Homo sapiens: one gene and its partner. The protein of the gene in region 1 interacts with the protein of each later gene in a pairwise test. Each region holds a gene or a part of one and is shown in the gene's direction. Other genes may lie near its edges.

The links.
Region 2: the proteins of SLC41A1 (region 1) and TMEM248 interact in binary tests that used the Homo sapiens proteins (3 or more experiments, as listed by UniProt).

What each region holds. Positions count from the first base shown.
Region 1 is NC_000001.11:205,792,372-205,796,289, reverse strand, and holds part of SLC41A1 (solute carrier family 41 member 1), read left to right. Parts: intron 1-811; coding exon 812-946; intron 947-1,271; coding exon 1,272-1,420; intron 1,421-3,918. UniProt on the Homo sapiens protein: Na(+)/Mg(2+) ion exchanger that acts as a predominant Mg(2+) efflux system at the plasma membrane.
Region 2 is NC_000007.14:66,937,977-66,941,894, forward strand, and holds part of TMEM248 (transmembrane protein 248), read left to right. Parts: intron 1-3,871; coding exon of another isoform or gene 3,872-3,889; coding exon 3,890-3,918.

The sequences.
Region 1 (3,918 bases):
TAACGAGGGAATAGCATTATAGGAGTCCAGTGAAAGCTCTGTCTTTGCCCCCAACATGGGGAAGCCAATGCTGAAAAGCAGGGAGGGATTGGGAAAGAAATACCTGATCTCTCTCTCCACCTGCCCTCTGGTTGCCTGCTGTTGCCTCCCACTGAACAAACAGTGGAAGCAGCCAGCAAGGGAGACTGGGTAATGCAGTCTGTGGAGACCAGTCCCCCAGAGCTCAGAGCAAGGCTGAGAAGAGCAGGGAGCAGGTTGGGATGTGAGGGCAACAGAGAAATCAGCACAGGTCCTGGCGGAGATACCAGATTCCAGAGTTTGGAGCTCAAACCTGATCCTTGAAACTGGTTACCAGAATCAGCATATGACCATAGGATGCCTGGGTCTGCTCAGAGCATTGGAGAGGAGGTGAGGCGGTGAGGCAAGGCAGGGCTTCATCCCCTCAGCTGTGTAGGAAGGCAGGTGCCCATGCTCTACTGGTGGAGAAGTCAGGCTCTCTGAGTCTGCAGATCTGCACGTATCCTTTCCGGCACTGTCACAGCTTTGCCAGGGGAACATGGAACTGCTGCATCTCCATAGAGGGGAGGATGGGGGAGGCTGGAAGATGCACTGGAAGCAGGGGTCTTTGTCTTCCTTCTTAGTGCCTTACTCTTCTTTTGGGGACTGGTGAATGGGTGATGCCCACATAGACCCTAAATTAAGACAGAGGACAGTGCCTCTATAGATAGAAGACAAAGAGTGAGAAGATCATTTTGTTCCCACTCCTCCCTCTGACCTCTGTCTGTGTCTAAGCCCGTATGTGTCTCTGCAGGTGTTGGGGGCAATCTGGTGGCAGTGCAGGCCAGCCGCATCTCCACCTTCCTGCACATGAATGGAATGCCCGGAGAGAACTCTGAGCAAGCTCCTCGCCGCTGTCCCAGTCCTTGTACCACCTTCTTCAGCCCTGGTAACGGCAGATTCCCAGCCTCCCAGCCCTGGGGGGAGTGGGCCTACTGTCAGTGAGCTTCACTTAAGAGACAGCTGGGGCCCCAGATCCACAGGTTCTCCTTCTCTGCTGGGCTGTGCCAGCTGTTCTGAAGGGCAGAGCCCAGGCAGGAGGGCTGTCTTTTCCTGGAGCACCCTAGGGGTTGGAGACCACAGGATGCAGAAGTAGAGACATTCATCTGTCTGTTGCCCTGGGGTATGGTGCCGTCCCTCCTGACTTTGAAAGGCCTTCTGGGGCCAGGTCTTCTCCTCCCCTCCTCTTTACACCCTCTTTTCCCCAATTCCAGATGTGAATTCTCGCTCAGCCCGGGTCCTCTTCCTCCTCGTGGTCCCAGGACACCTGGTGTTCCTCTACACCATCAGCTGTATGCAGGGCGGGCACACCACCCTCACACTCATCTTCATCATCTTCTATATGACAGCTGCACTGCTCCAGGTACAAAGTGGCAGGAGCAGGGGCATGGGAAGGAGCCAGGATGCCCTGCAGGGATGGGAGAGGAGGCCAGACTTGGCCTCTTAGACACTCAACCTCCTCTTTCTCTGTGTCAGGGCAGCTGATAAACACCAGACAAGGGTGCAGGAGAACAGATGGTAGTTCCAGTAGAGTCACCAACATGGTGTGTGACTTTGACCCTGTTCTTTTACTACCCTGATCCTCAGCGATACAGTTGTAAATTGAGAGGAATGGACCAGGGGTGGTAGTTTTCATGCAGGTGGTTGTAGGATGCTGAGCCTGTGGGGTTTGCATGCCAACCCCACTGGCCACAGAGCTCCACATGGCTCTGTTTTGCATGTTGAGCTTTCTCAAGAAATTCATTTGCATAAAGCATCCCATAGCTTGAAAAACTGTCAAAACCACTGCACTAGATAATCTGTCGGATCCTGTGTAGCCTTGCCATTCCATAATACCATGACACTTTCTCCCTTCTTGTATTATTACATTGTAAAAGCTTTTTATTTTGAAATCATTACAGATTTGTAAGAAGTTCTCAAAAAAAAGGTTCAGAAATCCCATATACCATTACCCAATTTCCCTCCATGGGAAAATAACATTTTGCATAACTTTAGGACAGTATCAAAATCAGGAAATTAGCATTGATGCAATCTGCAGTGCTTATTCAGATTGAACCAGTTTTACATGCACTCGTGTGTGTGTGTGCGTGTGTGTTCGTTCTATGCAGTTTTTATCACAAGTGGAGATTTGTGTGACCACCACTATAACCAAAATACAGAAAACTGTTTCATCACCACAAGGCTCCCTTATGCTATCCCTTTACAGCTAGATCCACCCTTATTATTACATTTTAAATTTTTATAGGTTTGATTTTTGAATAGTCACATAGTTCAAAAATGTTTTAAGGTTCATAGAGAAACCTCAGTGAAAAGTCTTCTTTTCTGTCCTCTTCTTCACAGCCATCTGTTTCTCTCCTTCACAGACCATCAGTATTATCCCTTTCTTGTGTGTCCTTCAAACCTATTCTATATTTATAAAAGTAAACATATATTTTTCTTATTTCCTTCCTCTTTTTTACACACATGTAGTATACTGTACACACTGTCTGCACCCTGCATTTTTCATTTAAGTTTATCTTTGAGATCATTCCATATCAATACATAAAGAGAACAACACCCTGATTTTCTTACAGCTCCATCATATTCTGTGATACACAGACCATAATTTTATTTCGCCAGTCCTGTATTGATTAACACCTATCCCTCCAGCCCCCTCACCCCCAGCTTTAGAAAGGTTGTGTTCGGACATCTTGGCAGGGGCGGGGCTGAGAATCAGCCATATGCTGTTGCCCTGCAGCAGTTAGCCAAGCTGCCACATTCCATTGCTAGTGGGTTCCAGTGCAGCACGTGGTGGGAAGATGGGGGTGGATATGCCAGGGGTCTGTGGTGGAGGTTTTCAGCTCATCCCTTGGCCTGAATTGGAAAGGATGAGCCTCAGTGCCATCACCCATGATGAATACCCTGGAGACATTCTTGCCTCTGCTGTCCTCTCTAGATCTGTGGAGGGCCAGAGCGTGACACTTGATCCCCTGTAAAGGCTCTTATTGATCCCTTTGCCACCTCCTCCCAGCTGTGTGTCCTGGGGCCTGCTCAAGAAGCTGGAATGTGAGGACAGCTGCTACCATTCCCTTCCTAGGGCATGTCCCAAAGGCCTCCTGGCCATGCTCTTTATTTGGGACCCTTCTGCAGCTGCTGGAAAGGGTGTGAAGTTATGGAAGGTAGGGGAGCCAAGGCCGTGGTAGCACAAGACAGCTGTGTGCAGAGCAAGGGAGAATGTGAAGAGTCATCTCTGGCTTCCTTGGAGAGAGGGCAGGATTCTCTCAGGCAGAGCCTAAAATTTAAAAAAAAAAAAAGAGAGAGGACAGGAGAGCAACCAAGATTGCCTAAAAATAGGTATCAGTTCTGGCTTCTGGATCCCTTAAGGGCTGTGGTTCCCGCATCTGGATCCCTTAGGGCAGAATTTTCATACCACAGTATTTACAAAGTATAGTCAAGGGTAAAACCTCCCAGATGACTGACTGTATTAGAGCTTGACCGTCAGAATCTGTTTCATTCTCACGCAGATGCAGTCATTTAGGGAGCCCAAATGTCAGGCACTGTGCAGATTCTAGGAGATTCAGGCCTGCCCCACCGTGGTATTCTAGATCAAGGGCATCGCCAACTTAAAAGCGCATGTAAATCTTGTTAAATGCGGACTCTGACTCAAGAGGTCCAGAGATTTTGCATTTCTAACAAGCACCCAGCTGTTGTTGATGCTGCTGGTCCTGGGCCCACTAGCGAGATTCTGATCTGAGTCATTCTTAATTATCTGTATTAATAGAAGGTAAGCAAGAACACAGATAAAATCAAAGCCACAGATCATGTCAAATGTATTTTGAATTGGTATGCATTGTCTGCTTTATATTAATATTGAGGTGACTT
Region 2 (3,918 bases), on another chromosome or scaffold:
CAGCCTCCCAAAATGCTGAGATTACAGGTGTGAGCCACTGCGCCCGGTTATTTCTTTATTTCCATTTGATGTGTGTCTTTATAGGTAGGGTGTGTTTCTTGTAGGCAACACATCGTTGGATCTGGTTTTTTTATTCATTCAGCCACTGTGTCTTTTGATTGGAGAGTTTAGTCCATTTACATTCAGTGTTGTTACTGATAAGTAAGGATTTACTCCTGCCATTTTGTTAGTTGTTTTTTGGTTGTTTTGTGGTCTTGTCTTCTTTCTTTCCTTCCTTCCTGTCTTCATTTTAGTGAAGGTGATTTTTCTCTGGTGGTATGTTTTAATTTCTTTTTATTTTTTATGTATCTGTTATAGGTTGGGCTTTCTTTATAGGACAGTGAAAACATTTGAAAATTGATAGTGAGGGTTGTTGTTCAAATCAGTGAATATACCAAAAATCATTGAATTGTATACTTTAAATGGGTGAATTGTATGGTATGTGAATTATTTCTTAATACTATTAAAAATATCAAGAACCTTTCTTTTTCTTTTCTTTTTGTTTTCTTTTGAGATGGAGTCTCGCTCTATCGTCGAAGCTGAAGTGCAGTGGTGTGATCTCGACTTGCTGCACCTCCGCCCTCCGGGTTCAACTGATTCTCCTGCTTCAGCCTCCCAACTAGCTGGGACTACAGGCACATGCCACCATGCCCAGCTACTTTTTGTATTTTTCATAGAGACGGGGTTTCACCATATTGGCCAGGCTGGTCTTGAACTCCTGACCTCGTGATCCACCTGCCTTGGCATCCCAAAGTGCTGGGATTACAGGCGTGAGCCACTGTGCCTGGCTTCTCAAGAACCTTTCATATGGCAAAAGATACCATAAACCATATTAAAGAAAACCCAGACTTGGATTAATTATACGTAACATATAAAACTGTTAAAGGCTTAGTACCCAAAACACAAAAGGAATTTCTAAACATCAATAAGAAATAGACTAACACCCTATTAGTAACTTACCAGAGGATTCAGGCAGTTCAGTTAAGATTGGGCCTAAATGGCTGATTAAAAAAGCGGAAAGATGCTTTGTTTCAGGGAGATACCATTTAAAATAATAGAGATATCATTTCACATCTGTCTTTTTGGACCATATTAATATGCCTTAGGAAATCAAGTGTTGGCACAAATCTCATGGAATGGAGCAGGCTCCTTCACTGCTGGGGAAGTGTAAACTGGTTGATCTCCTTGGAGAGTGGTCTGACAATATCAGGTTGAAGACAGGCCCTACTCTGTGACTTTGTTGTACTACAGCCACTCTTGTACCTGTTGCAATGCGCTTGGTGGGTGAAACAGTAACAGGAACCCAGCTAGGCCCCTCAGACTGGAATAACTCAACCACAGAACAATTACATATATACATCAGTGAAATTCAACGAACTAGATCAACAGAGATCAACAGAGATGTCAGAAAAACAATGTTGAGTGAAAGTGGCATGGAAAATGTGTTGCTGTTGATTTTTAGGGGCTGTTGATGCATCTTTTTGTCTCTAAAATTTAAACGCTGATACAGACTTTTTAAAAAATTGCTTTTTGCTAATGTTGTCGCAGTTTGCTCGTGTTTATAAGTGCTCATTGTGTGCCAGCTACTGTTCTAGGGGCCAGGGGCCAGGGCTGTAGCTGTGAACAAGACAGGCAAAATCTCCACTCTCACTGGGCTCATAAATGAGGGATGACAGATAGTAAACAAGTAGGAAAATAATTGTGCTCTTGGTTGATGCTAAACAATATAAAGGAAATAAAGCAGGGGCTGAGGGTGACCAAGGAAGGTGTGCAAAATCTCCGCTCTCGTTGGGCTCATAAATGAGGGATGACAAACAGTAAACAAGTAGGAAAATAATTGTGCTCTTGGTTGATGCTAAACAATATAAAGGAAATAAAGCAGGGGCTGAGGGTGACCAGGGAAGGTGTGCTCTGAGGAGCTGGCTATTAAACAGAGACTTGCATTTTTTTTTTTAATTGAGACAGTCTCATTCTGTCCCTCAGGCTGGAGTGCAGTGGCGTGATCCTGTCTTACTGCAACCTCCACCTCCCAGGTTCAAGTGATTCTCCTGCCTCAGCCTCCCTAGTAGCTGGGATTACAGGTGTGCACCACTATACCTGGCTAATTTTTGTATTTGTAGTAGAGGCGGGGTTTTGCCATGTTGGCCAGGCTGGTCTCGAACTCCTGACCTCAAGTGATCCACCCGCCTCGGCCTCCCAAAGTGCTGGGATTACAAGCATGAGCCACTGCGCCCAGCCATAGATGTGCGTTTTAAGAAGAGCAAACGTGGAAATGTTTGGGGAAAGCATCCAGGCAGATACAAAATTCTTCAGCTACATCATGGTCAAAAATGGCAGGAAGCATTAAATACTTATGAATAAACTTAATAAAAGAAGTGCAAACGTTAACACTGAAAACAGAAAACATTATTCAAATAAGGAAGCTAAATAGATGGAAAGGTCTGCAAGGCTCTTTGACTAGCAGACAACGTTGTTTGTTAAGAGAGCAGCACTCCCCAAAGCGATCCACAGATTCAGTGCAGTCCCTGTCAGTCCCAGCTGATTTCCTTGCAGACATTGACAAGATGATCCTGAAGAATAGCAAGTCCAGTGTGGCCAAAGCCCAGGAGGGAGGAGGGGAAGTGGATGGTGATGCAGTCAGGGAGACTGGCAGGGCTTCTGAGTCCTGAAAACCCTGTGGGCCATGACAGGGAGCTATTGCCGACCTCTCCTAGGTCTGGTAGAAGCCTTAGGAGCTTTTAAGCAGGGCTGGGATGGCTGTGAGCCATATGGCAATGAGCAGGACAGAATGTCGAATAAATAGAATTCAGCTTTTCAGTGGCAGGAAATGAGAGCATCCTCACTTTCTTTCTGTACATGTTGTGTATTTGTGTCACATTACTGACCCACCTAAACCTTTTCTTAAGTGATACGGAAGTAACAGTATTTATTATAGAATATTTAGAAGATTGAGTCTGGGTACGGTGACTCACACTTGCAATCCCAGAACTTTGGGAGGCTGAGGCAGGAGGATTGCTTGAGGCTAGGAGATCAAGACCAGCCTGGGCAACATAGCGAGACCCCATCTCTTAAAAGGTAATAAATTAGCCGGGCACGGTGGCTCACGCCTGTAATCCCAGCACTTTGGGGGGCCAAGGCAGGCAGATTACGAGGTCAGGAGTTCGAGACTAGCCTGGCCAATATGGTGAAACCCCATCTCTACTAAAAATACAAAAATTAGCTGGGTGTGGCGGCACATGCCTGTAGTCTCAGCTACTTGGGAGGCTGACGTGGGAGAATCACTTGAACCCAGGAGGCAGAGGTTGCAGTGAGCCAAGACTACACCATTGCTCCAGCCTGGGTCACAGAGTGAGACTCCGTCTCAAAAAAAAAAAAAAAGAAAAAAAAAAATTAGCCGGGCATAGTGGTACACACCTTTAGTCCTGGCTACTCGGGAGGCTGAGGTGGGAGGATAGCTTAAGCCTAGGAGTTCAAGGCTGCCGTGAGCTATGATCACGCCACTGCACTCTAGCCTGGGTGACAGAACGAGAGACCCTGTTTCTTAAAACACACACACACACACACACACACACACACACACACAATATTTAGAAGATTCAAACTGAAAGAGAATATGTATTCAGGATCCTGCCACTTTGAGGTAATGGCAGTTAACATTTAGTGTTTCTTCCTTCTAGTCTTTTGAATGAAGTTATGATCCGACATTTCTCAAATTCAGTAATGAGTGCCCATCCCACCCAGCTCACCCCCCAACACCTCAAAAGGAAACAAAAGAATCATAGCTTTCCTGTTGGCAAGTCAGTCCTTGAAGCTTCTGATTCATTTCTTTCAGGTGGAGCTGATCAGAATAATGTTCAGCATCAACCCCCTGGAGAACCT